Linked DNA regions of Homo sapiens. The protein of the gene in region 1 interacts with the protein of each later gene in a pairwise test. Each region holds a gene or a part of one and is shown in the gene's direction. Other genes may lie near its edges.

The links. The genes of interacting proteins can lie anywhere in the genome.
Region 2: the proteins of AGT (region 1) and EIF2B4 interact in binary tests that used the Homo sapiens proteins (3 or more experiments, as listed by UniProt).
Region 3: the proteins of AGT (region 1) and SLFN12 interact in binary tests that used the Homo sapiens proteins (3 or more experiments, as listed by UniProt).

What each region holds. Positions count from the first base shown.
Region 1 is NC_000001.11:230,704,112-230,711,154, reverse strand, and holds part of AGT (angiotensinogen precursor), read left to right. Parts: intron 1-301; 5' UTR 302-331; coding exon 332-1,160; intron 1,161-4,954; coding exon 4,955-5,222; intron 5,223-6,817; coding exon 6,818-6,962; intron 6,963-7,043. UniProt on the Homo sapiens protein: Essential component of the renin-angiotensin system (RAS), a potent regulator of blood pressure, body fluid and electrolyte homeostasis.
Region 2 is NC_000002.12:27,363,809-27,367,338, reverse strand, and holds the end of EIF2B4 (translation initiation factor eIF2B subunit delta), read left to right. Parts: intron 1-137; coding exon 138-265; intron 266-402; coding exon 403-580; intron 581-1,454; exon of another isoform or gene 1,455-2,262; intron 2,263-2,440; coding exon 2,441-2,621; intron 2,622-2,739; coding exon 2,740-2,939; 3' UTR 2,940-2,987; downstream 2,988-3,530. UniProt on the Homo sapiens protein: Acts as a component of the translation initiation factor 2B (eIF2B) complex, which catalyzes the exchange of GDP for GTP on eukaryotic initiation factor 2 (eIF2) gamma subunit.
Region 3 is NC_000017.11:35,410,379-35,415,500, reverse strand, and holds the end of SLFN12 (ribonuclease SLFN12), read left to right. Parts: intron 1-3,573; coding exon 3,574-4,163; 3' UTR 4,164-4,579; downstream 4,580-5,122. UniProt on the Homo sapiens protein: Ribonuclease which is part of an E2/17beta-estradiol-induced pro-apoptotic signaling pathway.

The sequences.
Region 1 (7,043 bases):
ATCCTGTCTCCAAATAATGGTCACATTCTGAGGTCCTGGGGTTGAGGACTTCAACACGGGCATTATGGCCGTTGGGGGAGGTAGGACATAATTCAGCTGATATTGGTGCATTTTGCACTTGGATCATGTAGATATTTTCCATGGAGCTTTGAATCCATTTCTTCTTTTTTTTGTAGACATGAATGGATTTATTCTGGGCTAAATGGTGACAGGGAATATTGAGACAATGAAAGATCTGGTTAGATGGCACTTAAAGGTCAGTTAATAACCACCTTTCACCCTTTGCAAAATGATATTTCAGGGTATGCGGAAGCGAGCACCCCAGTCTGAGATGGCTCCTGCCGGTGTGAGCCTGAGGGCCACCATCCTCTGCCTCCTGGCCTGGGCTGGCCTGGCTGCAGGTGACCGGGTGTACATACACCCCTTCCACCTCGTCATCCACAATGAGAGTACCTGTGAGCAGCTGGCAAAGGCCAATGCCGGGAAGCCCAAAGACCCCACCTTCATACCTGCTCCAATTCAGGCCAAGACATCCCCTGTGGATGAAAAGGCCCTACAGGACCAGCTGGTGCTAGTCGCTGCAAAACTTGACACCGAAGACAAGTTGAGGGCCGCAATGGTCGGGATGCTGGCCAACTTCTTGGGCTTCCGTATATATGGCATGCACAGTGAGCTATGGGGCGTGGTCCATGGGGCCACCGTCCTCTCCCCAACGGCTGTCTTTGGCACCCTGGCCTCTCTCTATCTGGGAGCCTTGGACCACACAGCTGACAGGCTACAGGCAATCCTGGGTGTTCCTTGGAAGGACAAGAACTGCACCTCCCGGCTGGATGCGCACAAGGTCCTGTCTGCCCTGCAGGCTGTACAGGGCCTGCTAGTGGCCCAGGGCAGGGCTGATAGCCAGGCCCAGCTGCTGCTGTCCACGGTGGTGGGCGTGTTCACAGCCCCAGGCCTGCACCTGAAGCAGCCGTTTGTGCAGGGCCTGGCTCTCTATACCCCTGTGGTCCTCCCACGCTCTCTGGACTTCACAGAACTGGATGTTGCTGCTGAGAAGATTGACAGGTTCATGCAGGCTGTGACAGGATGGAAGACTGGCTGCTCCCTGATGGGAGCCAGTGTGGACAGCACCCTGGCTTTCAACACCTACGTCCACTTCCAAGGTAAGGCAAACCTCTCTGCTGGCTCTGGCCCTAGGACTTAGTATCCAATGTGTAGCTGAGATCAGCCAGTCAGGCCTTGGAGATGGGCAGGGGGCAGCCCTGCGGACATACCTGGTGACCACCCTTGAGAAGTGGGGAAGTGGCTGCTCCGCTGGGTCCCTGGATGGGCCGTCCACCTCCTGGACCTGCTGCCCTACTATGTGCACGACTATACAACATCCTTTTTCTTACATCATTTAATCCCCTTATGATGTGGTGAAGAGGTATTTGTGCCTTTGTTTACCAGTGAAGAAATAGAGACTCGGAGAAACAAAGTGCCTTGCTCAAGATGGCACAGCCACCAGTGGGGGTCCTGGGATTGAAACCCACATCTCCTGGCCCCACAGCCCAGTTCTACACTCAGAAGGGTCAGGTTCATATCTCTTGAGAAGGTCAGGAACTGGGGTCCCTGGCCCATGCAGAAATAAGCAATTGGCTTGCTTAAATCCCTTTCATGTTAGGAGGGGCATTACTGAAAACCCTCTACTACAAAGATTGTTGATTTTTTTTTTTTTTTTTATTGAGACAGGGTCTTGTTCTGTCACCCAGGCTGCAGTGTAGTGGTGCCATCATTGCTCACTGTAGCCTTGAACTCCTGGCCTCAAGCGATCCTCCCACCTCTGCCTTCCAAAGTGTTGGGATTAAAGGTGTGAGCCACTGCACCCAGCCACAGATTGCTTAAAGCATTCATTTAACAAATACTTGTTGAGGATTTGCTACTTGTAAGACTTTAAGCCTGGCATCTCAGAGGAGGCCAGAGGAGGGCTGTATAGGCCCTGCCTCCAGGCTTTTAAAGGTCAATGGGCAAATGCCTAGGATTTGGAGCTGCAGGGAAACGTGCTCCACAAGGTAACTCAGGGAAGCCTCGGGGCTCTCAGAGGACAGAGGTCACTGGGGAGCGGAGAGCAGGCCTTGCCTGGCAGTGAGGGCAACAGGGCTGGTGAAGCTAGGAGCAAGCATGATGAGCCCAGCCTGCAGAGTTTGGGGCAAGGAACGAGGATGGGGCGGTTGGCTTGGCATGAGTGTTGAACCAGAAAATGGGCCTGGGGAGGGCAGAGCTGGAGACACTTTGAACGCCATGCTTGGTAGGTGTGGGAATGGGGACGCGTTCTGTTCAGAGGTCATCCCGGAAGCCTGCCGTGTGCAGACTGGAGGCAGGGAGGATTGTTTGAAGGTTACGCAAGAGTCCAGGCACACAGTCACGGGAACACGTGCTCAGGGAGCAGCTCGGCAAATCCATGGGTGGGGTGGGGCTGAGGGGTGTGTCTAAGAGACACTGAGGAGGCTCTGTCAAGATGTTAACCTCGTGAGGGACAGAGAGCCAGGCGGGAGGTGAAAGACAAGACTGTGGAGAAAGAGGTTCAGTGGCGCATAGTGATTTTTCTTACCACAACAACCTCCTTGAGGTCTTTCCCTTCGGGTTCAGGGAGAGGTGATAGATGGGGGGATTGCTCAGCCCTGGCACTGACTGGTCACAGGGGCAGAGGCCAGCCCGAGGGTTGCCCGGTTGAGGGTGGCAGCACACTGTGCAGGGCAGAGCAGGGACACATGGACTTAGCCTGCTGTCCCTAGGAGAAGTGCTGGGAGGAGCGCTCACTGAGAAGGAGGGTCCTGCAGAAGGCAAAGGCAAGAAAGCCAGTGGCATCTGAAATGGGTCTCCCTTCGAAAGAGAGCACATCCACCTGACCCAGACCGCAGAGCCAGGCCAGGAGGAAGAGGAGGAAGAATAAAAAAGCCAACCACATCGGGACTCAAAGGAAGCCCAGGATCCTCGCCGGCCTCCACCGCATGCTGCCCTGACCCTGCCCCACTTCCTAACTTTGCTGGCCTCAGTTTCCGTCAAAGGAGGCAGCCACTTCCTGCCCACATGGTCTGTCCAGTGAGGAGATCGGGGGCTGTCTCGGGACCTCTAGGTTTCCCTTTAGCAATGATGTTCTATTTACATGACCTCAGCAGGCAGCTAGATGTGTCCCACTAGAGAGGACCTGAGGATCTGGGGCCTGATGGGCTCCAGGGTACCGTCTGCCCAGTGCTTGCTGTGCTCCTGAGCATGGGGCGCTGGCCCTGGTGGTTTCCATGACACCAGGTCCTGACTTGACCTCGACAGATTTACCTAGCCTCCGGATGAGAATGGTGAGCTGTGCATGTCAGACGAGCAGAGGGAAGACGGCAGCCACTCTCATGTCAAATCCCAGCGTCTTTTGGGAGGCAGCTTCCCTTTTTTAGTTTAGTTTGTTGGAAGAAAAGAATTGTCCCTTTCCCCCCTCTAAACTAAAAGCCTTGCCAGCCCAGGTGGGCAGCACCGAGGTCCCTGCAGGGAACGTGCAAGGGGAACCCTGCAGTTTCCCGCTCACATGCCCTTCCGAGACTGAGTGCTCCGAGGACTGAGGACGAGAAATATGCCAGGTCTGCCACTGCCTTCTTACGAGACCCGGACCCAGGGGAGGCACAGCCATGCCCAGCTCCTGCCTGCCAGTTCTGTCCTCCCAGCTGCCCTACTTTCATGCTGGGACCTCCAATTCAGTACAAAGGGAGACCTCACTGTTTCTGAACCATCTCTACTCAGACTCCCAAGTGCCACGTGCCCAGGGGACTGTTCTGTGACAAACTTATACACAACTTCACCCTATTCTCCTAAGAACAACCGCAGAATAGGCCTTTCAGGATGAGTGGGAGGACAGCCGAGGGCAGGGATGTGCTAGTGTAAGGTCGAGGCAGAGGGTGGGCTGCTGTCATGGAAAGACCCCAGGTAACTGCGTCACACACAAATTTGTGTCCTTCTCCCACAACGGGCTCTCCCGAGTTCTCTGTCATCTGCACGGCCCTGTGAGCAGGAGGGGAAACAGAGGGCTCACCCCTGCCCCCAAGGCCCAGTGTGCAAATCCATTCATCACAACGAGGTTGTGTGAGTCTCCCCAGTAGCAAGGGCTGCTGAGGAATGGAGCCCTCGTTTCCGGGGCCTGCGTGGCCCACTCTGTATTCTATGACTGTGATGGGGGAGGGTGGGGGCCACAGGACAGCTGGTGGGCTCTGCCATGGCTGGGGCTAGACATGGATTAAAAAGTGAGTATGAGCAGGGGCCTCTAGGAGTGGTGGGATAGTGCGGTGGTGGCCACATGTCATTCTACGTGCGTCCAAACCTACAGAATGTAAAACACCAGGAGGGAGACTCAAAGAAAACTATCAACTTTGAGTGCTGAGGACGTGTCAGTGTAGGTTCGTCAGTTGCAACAAATGGGCCACGCTGGTGTGAGATGTTGATCACGGGGGAGGCTGTGTAGTGGGGGACAAGAGTTATATGGGAACTTTCTGTACTTTCTGCTCGATTTTGCTGTGAACCTAAAGTCACTCTAAAAAATAACATCTCTTAAATTTTTTAAAAAGTGAGTGTGTCAAACCACAGCCTTTGGGTCAGGACAGTTCTAGGTTTGAGTTGACCTGGCAGGTACCAGTGGCTTATGTCCCTTAAGGTGACAGATGCAAAACCCCCGGTTTGGTGCCTGGCATGTTGTGTGTCTTGCAGGTGGCGGTTAGGGCTGCCTCAGTGAACTCAAATGGCTGCATTTTACAGGAGAAATATTTGAGCCACACTTGCGGTCCTGTGGCCAGGAGAATGCAGAGTGGCCTGGGGGGGGCCAAGGAAGGAGGCTGAGGCAGGGCGAGGGGCAGGATCTGGGCCTTTGGTGTCTGCCAGCCCTCATTCCTGCCCCTGTCTTGGGTGACTCTTCCCTCCCTGTCTCCTGTCTGGATTTCAGGGAAGATGAAGGGCTTCTCCCTGCTGGCCGAGCCCCAGGAGTTCTGGGTGGACAACAGCACCTCAGTGTCTGTTCCCATGCTCTCTGGCATGGGCACCTTCCAGCACTGGAGTGACATCCAGGACAACTTCTCGGTGACTCAAGTGCCCTTCACTGAGAGCGCCTGCCTGCTGCTGATCCAGCCTCACTATGCCTCTGACCTGGACAAGGTGGAGGGTCTCACTTTCCAGCAAAACTCCCTCAACTGGATGAAGAAACTATCTCCCCGGTAGGAGCCTCCCGGTCTCCCCTGGAATGTGGGAGCCACACTGTCCTGCCCAGGCTGGGGGCGGGGTGGGGAGTAGACACACCTGAGCTGAGCCTTGGGTGCAGAGCAGGGCAGGGCCGCGGTGGCACGGGGCTGGGCAGGCGGCCTGTGTGTCTGTCTACCAGTCCTCTATCCAGCCAGCACCCAGCTCTCCAGTTAGTGTCTGTCTTTCAAGTGCAGGCAAGGTAAAGGAGGAGAGGAAGAATGCTTTTTCTACACTTACACTTGCCTGGTAGTTTTGGAGGGGGAGAAAACATTGCAATCCGCCCTCTGAGAGAGGACCATTTTGGTCCCACACCTGACACACAGCACACCTGTGACATCCAAGAGCTTCTTGGAACTGACTTGCCAGGAGGGTTCGGACTTCGCGTGAGCGGGGGTGGGGCCTTCTCAGGGAGCGTCCCTTGACTCCAGAACGCCCTTGCTGGCGGCTGGCGGCTGGGTGGGGATAGGTGTTGTTAGCTCCTCTTTCCTGCTGCAATTCCTTTCCACAGAGCCCTGGACTCAAACTACACATCACCCCAGATCATCGAGGCCTGGAAATCTGCTCCCAGAGGCAGGCATTGAGTGACACGATGGCTTGACATCAACTCTGGGTGTTTTTTATGTTTTAAAAATTGTGATGGTAAAATATACGTAACAAAATTTGCCATCGTAACCATTTTCGAGTGCACAGTTCAGTGGTACTAGGCCCATTCACACTGTTGTGCAGCCATCACCCCCGTCCATCTCCATTTATCTTCTCAACTTCCCAAACTGAAGCTCTGTCCTGCTGAAACACTAACTCTCCATTTCCCCTTCCCCTTGGCCCCGGCAACCACCACGATGTCCTCGAGGTTCACCCATGTTGTAGCACATGTCAGAATGTCCTTCCTTTTGAAGGCTGAATAATATTCCATTGCATGTGGTTACCACCTTTTGTGTATCCACTCATCCATCGATGGACACGTGGGTTGCTTCCACCTTTGAGCTGCTGTGAATAGTGCAGTGTACCCTGTAAACATGGGTGTACTGTCAGCTCTTATAAGTGCTTGATACATCACTGGAAATGTCCATGGGCTCTGAAGGATGCCAAAAGATGGAAGAGGCTCTATACGAAGATCAATCGAGTTGACATAGCAACGTGTCCAGCACGAGGTTGACACTGTACCCTCCTGCCTCTCTCCTTTTCATGGGTGTCATGTCATCAAGAACACTGCTGTGGCAGTAGTAAGACACAGTGCATTATTTCAGAGAATAGCATTTAAAAATTACCCAAGTAACACACCTTCAATGCAGCCAACCTAAAAACAGAATGCACCAAAGGACAACCATTCCTAGGTCCTCATCGGTAAATCTTCTATGTCCCTCACATAGTATTGCAAATGACATGAAGGATTTTTATTGTAGGTTTTGCTGAAATTTTCCCCAAGGGGGAGGATGACTTAGTTGGGTGATGGGGGGAGCAAACATCCCTGTCGTCAGGGTTGGGTGCAAGGAGCATAAGCCTGCCTGGCCTCTGGGAGAGCCCTCACTGTGTGGCCTGGAGCCTTCCTAACTGTGCATCATCTCCCCAGGACCATCCACCTGACCATGCCCCAACTGGTGCTGCAAGGATCTTATGACCTGCAGGACCTGCTCGCCCAGGCTGAGCTGCCCGCCATTCTGCACACCGAGCTGAACCTGCAAAAATTGAGCAATGACCGCATCAGGGTGGGGGAGGTATGTGTGAGCCTGTGTCTGTGCCTGACCTGGGTTCCAAGTGTGCACAGGGTGGGAGGCATGGATGTAAGGGACACAGAG
Region 2 (3,530 bases), on another chromosome or scaffold:
GGTTTGGCCATTCTGACTTGTGCCATCTCTGAGCCCTCTATAGGCTTGTCATCATACACATATTCAAGCACCTGGCATGATCATCAGAGGGATAAAAGTGTCCATTTCTTGTTCACTAAGGATTTTACTCCATTTAGGCCAAGTCAGAACTTCGAGCAGCCATTGATCGGTATGTGCAAGAGAAGATTGTGCTAGCAGCTCAGGCAATTTCACGCTTTGCTTACCAGAAGATCAGTAATGGAGATGTGATCCTGGTATATGGATGGTATGGTCCAGACCTTGTGACTGAGCAGATTGGGAGTTGGAATGATCTGAAGAAGGGACTACCCACTTGCCTTTGGGAATAAGTTAGTCATCAGTTACTGACATTTATAACTGAATCCTCCTCTTCATTCACTCTAGCTCATCTCTGGTATCACGAATTCTTCAGGAGGCTTGGACAGAGGGCCGGCGGTTTCGGGTGGTAGTGGTGGACAGCCGGCCATGGCTGGAAGGAAGGCACACACTACGTTCTCTAGTCCATGCTGGTGTCCCAGCCTCCTACCTGCTGATTCCTGCAGCCTCCTATGTGCTCCCAGAGGTAAGTACAGAGGAAAAGGACTCCAAAGTTGGCGGTGAAAAGGTGTAGTAGTATAGACATAATCTCACCTTCCCAAAGTTACAGTTTTGTTTTTGTTTTGAGATAAGGATGGAGTGCAGCGACGTGATCACAGCTCACTGCAGTCTTGACCTCCTGGGCTCAGGTGATCTTCCCACCTCCGCCTCTGAGTAGCTGGGACTACTGGTGTGTGCCACCATGCCCAGCTAGTTTTTTATTTTTCTTGTAGAGATGGGATATCGCTACATTGCCCAGGCTGGAACTCCTGGGCTCAAGCAGTTCCCCCTGTCTCGGCCTCCCAAAGTACTGGGATCATAGGCATGAGCCACTGTGCCCAGCCACAATTATTTAAAAATATTAGAATTATATAGCCCTGGCTTGGTGCCATGGCTCAATGCCTGCAATCTCAGCACTAAGGCAGGAGGATCACTTGAGCCCAGGAGTTCAAGACCAGCCTGCTCAACATAATGAGACCCTGTACACACACACACACACACACACACACACACACACACACACACACACCCCACCCCACCCCCACCCCGGGCATGGTGGCATGCGCATGTAGTTCCAGCTACTTAGGCTGAGGTGAGAGGACTGCTTGAGTGCGTGCGCGCGCGCACGCACACACACACACACACACACAGCTACTTAGGAGGCTGAGGTGAGAGGACTGCTTGAACACACACACACACACACACACCCGGGCATGGTGGCATGCGCATGTAGTTCCAGCTACTTAGGAGGCTGAGGTGAGAGGACTGCTTGAGCCCAGGAGGTTGAGGCTACAGTGAGCTGTCATTGCACCACTGCACTCCAGCCTGGGTGACAGAATGAAACCCTGTGTCAAAAAAAATAATTATATAGCTCTGTTTCTATTTAATTGGAAAAACACTGACAGTATATTACAGCAGTCTAGCTATTGCAAAAACATTACATTAAACTAGCAACCAGGAAGAGGGAACAAGACAAAAGTAACTTCAAAGTTTACTTTTCCTGTGGGAGATTTGGTGGGTCAGTGGTCAGGTGTTTTCACAGAAGAAAAGCCATCATTAAGATTTATTAGGCCGGGCACAGTGGCTCAAGCCTGTAATTCCAGCACTTTGGGAGGCCGAGGAGGGCAGTTCACGAGGTCAGGAGTTCACAATCATCCTGGCTAACACAGTGAAACCCCGTCTCTACTAAAAATACAAAAAATTAGCCGGGCGTGGTGGTGGGCGCCTGTAGTCCCAGCTAATCTGGAGGCTGAGTCAGGAGAATGGCGTGAACCCAGGAGGCAGAGCTTGCAGTGAGCCGAGATCATGCCACTGCACTCCAGCCTGGGCGACAGAGCGAGACTCCATCTCAAAAAAAAAAAAAAAAAGGATTTATTAATTGCCGGACTCAGTGGCTCACGCCTGTTATCCTGGCACTTTGGGTGGCTGAGGCGGGCAGATCACCTGAGGTTGGGAGTTCGAGACCAGCCTGACCAACGTGGAGAAACCCCGTCTCTACTAAAAATATAAAAATACAACAAATCAGCTGGGAGTGGTGGTGCATGCCTGTAATCCCAGCTACTCGGGAGGCTGAGGCAGGAGAATCACTTGAACCCAGGAGGCAGAGGTTGTGGTGAGCCGAGATCGCGCCATTGCACTCCAGCCTGGGCAACAAGAGCAGAACTTCATCTCAAAGAAAAAAAAAAAAAAGATTTATTACTTGTTGTCTGTTTTTGTTTCTTTCCCTTCTTTTCACAGGTGTTGAGATTTATTACTTGTCTTAATGTTGCTGTCCTGTAAGTAGGGGACCTTATTTTGCATTGATACAACAATGACATTTTTTTCTTCCTCTTCTCCTGTGAAACAGGTTTCCAAGGTGCTATTGGGAGCTCATGCACTCTTGGCCAACGGGTCTGTGATGTCACGGGTAGGGACAGCACAGTTAGCCCTGGTGGCTCGAGCCCATAATGTACCAGTGCTGGTTTGCTGTGAAACATACAAGTTCTGTGAGCGTGTGCAGACTGATGCCTTTGTCTCTAATGAGCTAGGTAAGGAGGCAAAAGAGAAGCCTCCAGCTACCTGTGAAGACTTGAGAGGGAGGGAGAGGGGCGGATAAACTAGAACTTCTTTTCTGAAAGAACATAATGGGTACGCCTTCCATTGCAGATGACCCTGATGATCTGCAATGTAAGCGGGGAGAACATGTTGCGCTGGCTAACTGGCAGAACCACGCATCCCTACGGTTGTTGAATCTAGTCTATGATGTGACTCCCCCAGAGCTTGTGGATCTGGTGATCACGGAGCTGGGGATGATCCCTTGCAGTTCTGTACCTGTTGTTCTACGAGTCAAGAGCAGTGACCAGTGACGGGGGAAACACAGGGTTAATAAATGCCATACTCCCTACCCTCAGCAACTCTGCTGCCTTTGTTTCTCTTTTAGCATCTCCACCACTTAAGTTAGGAGTCCAGACTTCACAACCCCTTTTATCACCTGCTACTCAGACCTTTGTGAAGACCTGCTCAAGTAACTAGCTCCATGCCAGTACATTGGGACTAACCTGAAGACCCGTATAAAGAACCAAAACTACCCAAATCAATCATTCACTGAGCATCTACATGCCAGACACTAAACTGGGTGTGAGGAGGAATATGAAAACAAATAGTCCTGGGCTGAGTGCAGTGACTCATTCCTGTAATCTCAGCATTTTGGGAGGCTAAGGCAGGAGGATTGTTTGAGCCCAGAGGTTTGAGACCAGCCTGGGCAACATGGCAATCCGGTCTCTACAAAAAATAAAAATTAGCTGGGCATGGTTGTGCTCATCTGTTGTTCCAGCTACTCAGGAGGCTGAAGCCAGAGGATTGCTTGAGTCCAGGAGGTAGAGGCTGCAGTAAGCCATGATTGTGCCGCTGCACTCCAGCCTGGGTGACAGAGTGAGACCCTGTCTCAAAAAGAGAGT
Region 3 (5,122 bases), on another chromosome or scaffold:
TGTTTTTGTTACATTTGCTTTTGGGTTCTTGGTTATGAACTCTTTGCCTAAGCCAACGTCTAGAATTGTTTTTCTGATGTTATCTTGTAGAATTTTTATGGTTTCAGGTCTTAGATTTAAGTCTTTGATTCCTGTTGGGTTGGTTTTTGTATAAGGTGAGAGATGAGGATCTGGTTTTATTCTTCTACATGTGGCTTGCCGATTATCCCAGCACCATTTGTTGCATGGGGTGTCCTTTCCCCACTTTGTTTTTGCTTGTTTTGTTGAAGATCCAATTGAACTGTAAGCATTAGACTTTCTTTCAGTGTTCTCTATTCTATTCCACTGGTCTACATGCCTATTTTTATATCAGAACCATGCTGTTTTGGTAACTATAGCTTTGTAGCATAATTTGAAGTCAGGTAATGTGATGCCTCCAGATTTGTTCTTTTTGCTTAGTCTTGCTTTTGCTATGTGGACTCTTTTTTGGTGCCATATAAATTTTAGGGTTATTTTTTCTAGTTCTGCGAAGAATGATGATGGTATTTTGATGGGAATTGCATTGATGTAGATTGCTTTTGTCAGTATGGTCATTTTCACAATATTGATTCTACCTATCCATGAACATGGGATGTGTTTCCATTTGTTTGTTTCATCTATGATTTCTTTCAGCAGTGTTTTGTGGTTTTCCTTGTAGAGATCTTTCACCTCCTTGTCTAGGTATATTGCTAAGTATTTTATTTTATTTTGCAGCTGTTGTCGGAGGGATTGAGGTTTTGATTTGATTCTCAGCTTGGTCACTCTTGCTGTATAGCAGTACTAATTTGTGTACATTGGTTTTGTATCCTGAAACTTAATGGAATTCATTTATCAAATCTAGAAGCTTTTTGGATGAGTCTTTAGGGTTTTCTAGGTATACAGTCATTTTTCTGTGAAAAATGACATGGGAATTTTGATAGGGTTTTCGTTGAATCTGTAGATCACTTTGGGTAGTGTGGACATTTTAAAAATATGATTTTTTCAATCCATGAACACAAGCTATCTTTCCATTTATTTGTGTCTTTTCCAATTTCCTTCATCAGCATTTTATAGATATCAGTATAGAAATCTTTCATCTCCTTGATAACATTTATTATCAAGTATTTTTTGTAGCTATTGTAAATGGGAGTGTTTTCTTGATTTCTTTATAGGATAATTTGTTGTTAGTGTATGGAAATGCTACTGATTTTTGTATTCTGAAAATTTACTGAATTCTTTTATTTGTTCTGATCATTTTTTGGTGGCATCTTTAAGGTTTTCTATATATAAGTTCACATTGTGGGCAAACCGTGACAATTTAATTTCTTATTTTCCAGTTTGGATTCTTTTTATTTCTTTTTTCTTCCCTAATTGCTCTGGCTAGGACTTCCATATTGGATAGAAGTGGTGAAATGGGCATCCTTGTTTTGTTCCTGATCTTAGATGAAAAGCTTTCAATGTTTCACCATTGAGCATGGAGTTAGCTCTAGGTTTTTTATATATGGTCTTTGCTGTGGTGAGGTACATTCCTTCTATACCTAGTTGGTTAAGAGGTTTTTTTAAATTACAGAATGTTGAATTTTGTAAAATGCTTTTTCTGTATCCGTTAATATGAGCATATAGTTTTGCCCTTCATTTTATTAATGTGGTATATCACAATTATTGATTTTCACATGTTATACTATGCTTGCATCCCAAGGATAAATCCCACTTATTATGATGAATGATCTTTTTTTTTCTTTTTTTTTTTTTTTGAGACATGGTTTCACTCTTGTTACCCAGGTTGGAGTGCAATGGCGCTATCTTGGCACCCTGCAACCTCCACCTCCCGGGTTCAAGCGATTCTCTTACTTCAGCCTCCCGAGTAGCTGGGATTACAGGTGCCTGCCACCATTTCTGGCTAATTTTCTGTATTTTTAGTAGAGACGGGGTGTCACCATGTTGGCCAGGTTGGTCTTGCACCCCTGACCTCAGGTGATCCACCTGCCTTGGCCTCCCAAAGTGCTGGGATTACAGGCGTGAGCCACTACACTGGGCCGAATGATCCTTTTAATGTGCTGTTGAATTTGGTTTGCTAGCATTTTGTTGAGAATTTTTGCATCTAGTTTCAACAGTGATATTGGCCTGTAACTTTCTTTTTTTTTGTAGTGTCCTTGACTGACTTCATGATCAGGGTAATGTTGACCTCATGAAATGAGTTTGGAAGTATTTCCTCCTCTTCAATTTTTTTGGAAGAGTCTGAGAAGGATTGGTATACTCTTGTATTTGTGAGTGATATCTTTAATCAACTTTGAAAAAACTATAATTGTTTATCTCTTCAAATATTGCTTATCTTATTTTTCTCTCCTTTCTCTTTGTGGGACTTATAAATTTGCTAGACCTTTTGACAGTTTCGGATATATCTCTTATCTTCTGTTTTTACCTTTTTTTTTTTTATTGAGTTTGAGTTCGGACTTTTGCTACCATCCTGTCTTCCTATTGACTAGTCCTGTTTTCTGCTATGCTCTGTCTGCTGTTAAATATTATCAAATAAGTTCTTATTACCACCTACTGTATTTTTCAGTTAAGGAATGCCCACACAATTTTTATCCCTCAATTTTAGTTTTTCTAAGGCTGTAAGAGAATAAGGACATCTTCATCTTTTCATCTATTTTATTATTATTTTTTGTTTTTAAATATATTACAGTTAAAGTCCCTCTTTGATAACTACAATATCTGAAGCACTTGTCAGTCTTTTTCTCTGATCTGATTTTTCTCCTGTTTTCTAGTAATTCATTCTGATTTTTATTCTGTCTCGTAATTTTTTATTGTATCATGGATTACAAATTGTAGAGACTTTGATAGATATTACATTTCTCCAAAAAGGGCTATATTTACTTCTGACAGGTAGTTAGAGTACCACCCATTGCTTTTATTCTTTTGAAGTTTTTTTATCCTTTTCTAGGTATAATAGTTTTTAATTTTGCCGTTACTACTAGGTCATGGCTTTTCTATTGCTGTAATGTCGCTGGTGTTTACCAAGATCCCTCCACTCTTTTGGGACTGGAATTCCAGTCTGTGTTTCCTGAGCACCATGAGGCTGAAGAAACTTACATTCAGCTCTTTAGTCTCCCAGTTGATATTTTCTTCTGTGTTTCCAGCATCTGACCTGTATTAGCCAATGAGTTGAGGGAAATTTGTATGTAGACTTTGGCTTCTTCTCTGCAGCTTCATTTTCTCTGAGATTTTACTTCTCATATTCCAGCTCTTCTTACTTCTTTTCCTCAGCCTAATAAGACTGATGATTTCTCCTTGGGTTCTATTTACCCATGCCATGATATAGAAAATCTACTTAGGGAAAAAGCAGGGGTGAATGTGAAGCTACTTTCTGTGTTTCACCTCTATCAAAGACTGTGGCACTTCAAATACTGCTTTTATTGGTGCTTTCTAGTTCTTTAAATTATTGTTTGAATATATTTTATACAACTTTTACAGTGTTTTTGATGGGAAGATTGGTTTTTTACAAGCTACTTTGCCATGGCTTAAATGGGAACTTCCTAGTGTTTTATAATTTATTATTATTATTTCCTTATTCAGGGCTATCAGGAAGGATAACGTATACTCCAGAAAACCTTTGCAGAAAACTGTTCTTACAACATGAAGGACTTAAGCAATTAATATGTGAAGAAATGGACTCTGTCAGAAAGGGCTCACTGATCTTCTCTAGGAGCTGGTCTGTGGATCTGGGCTTGCAAGAGAACCACAAAGTCCTCTGTGATGCTCTTCTGATTTCCCAGGACAGTCCTCCAGTCCTATACACCTTCCACATGGTACAGGATGAGGAGTTTAAAGGCTATTCTACACAAACTGCCCTAACCTTAAAGCAGAAGCTGGCAAAAATTGGTGGTTACACTAAAAAAGTGTGTGTCATGACAAAGATCTTCTACTTGAGCCCTGAAGGCATGACAAGCTGCCAGTATGATTTAAGGTCGCAAGTAATTTACCCTGAATCCTACTATTTTACAAGAAGGAAATACTTGCTGAAAGCCCTTTTTAAAGCCTTAAAGAGACTCAAGTCTCTGAGAGACCAGTTTTCCTTTGCAGAAAATCTATACCAGATAATCGGTATAGATTGCTTTCAGAAGAATGATAAAAAGATGTTTAAATCTTGTCGAAGGCTCACCTGATGGAAAATGGACTGGGCTACTGAGATATTTTTCATTATATATTTGATAACATTCTCTAATTCTGTGAAAATATTTCTTTGAAAACTTTGCAAGTTAAGCAACTTAATGTGATGTTGGATAATTGGGTTTTGTCTATTTTCACTTCTCCCTAAATAATCTTCACAGATATTGTTTGAGGGATATTAGGAAAATTAATTTGTTAACTCGTCTGTGCACAGTATTATTTACTCTGTCTGTAGTTCCTGAATAAATTTTCTTCCATGCTTGAACTGGGAAAATTGCAACACTTTTATTCTTAATGACAACAGTGAAAATCTCCCAGCATATACCTAGAAAACAATTATAACTTACAAAAGATTATCCTTGATGAAACTCAGAATTTCCACAGTGGGAATGAATAAGAAGGCAAAACTCATTTTCTCAAAACAAAACTCCAGGAATTCTCTGGATCTTCTTGAGCTACTTTCACACTATTTACTTGGAAGGGTTGTGGATTTCCTAACTGGTCAGCTAGCACCTTTAAAGAACTCACAAGAATGGTTACTTTATTTTTCTACAAGCAGTTCTGAATAAAGAAGCGTGAGATGACAAAATATGGAAAATCCTCTCTAACTAAGATTTGAAGGAAAGCAGCCAAGGTATAAGTAGAAACTCTTTTAGACAACGAGAGTTTTCATCAACAAGAGGAAGGAGCACCAGGGTCTGGCATTTCCCACTCATCTAAGATGAGCTAAGGGACCAAGATGAAGCTCAGCAGAGTGGGATACACCCTTGGCTGGGTGTTCTGAATTCATGCCTAAGACCTTCAGTGGGATCTTGGAACAGAGAATAGAGCCTAAATTACCCATCAGGGCCTCAGCCTTCTCCACCACTGTGTCCAATGCCAGAGGAAGTCGATCAATGCATTCAGTATTCTGAGAAAAGTTTTACTAACACATATTTTGCCAAACGAGATGATG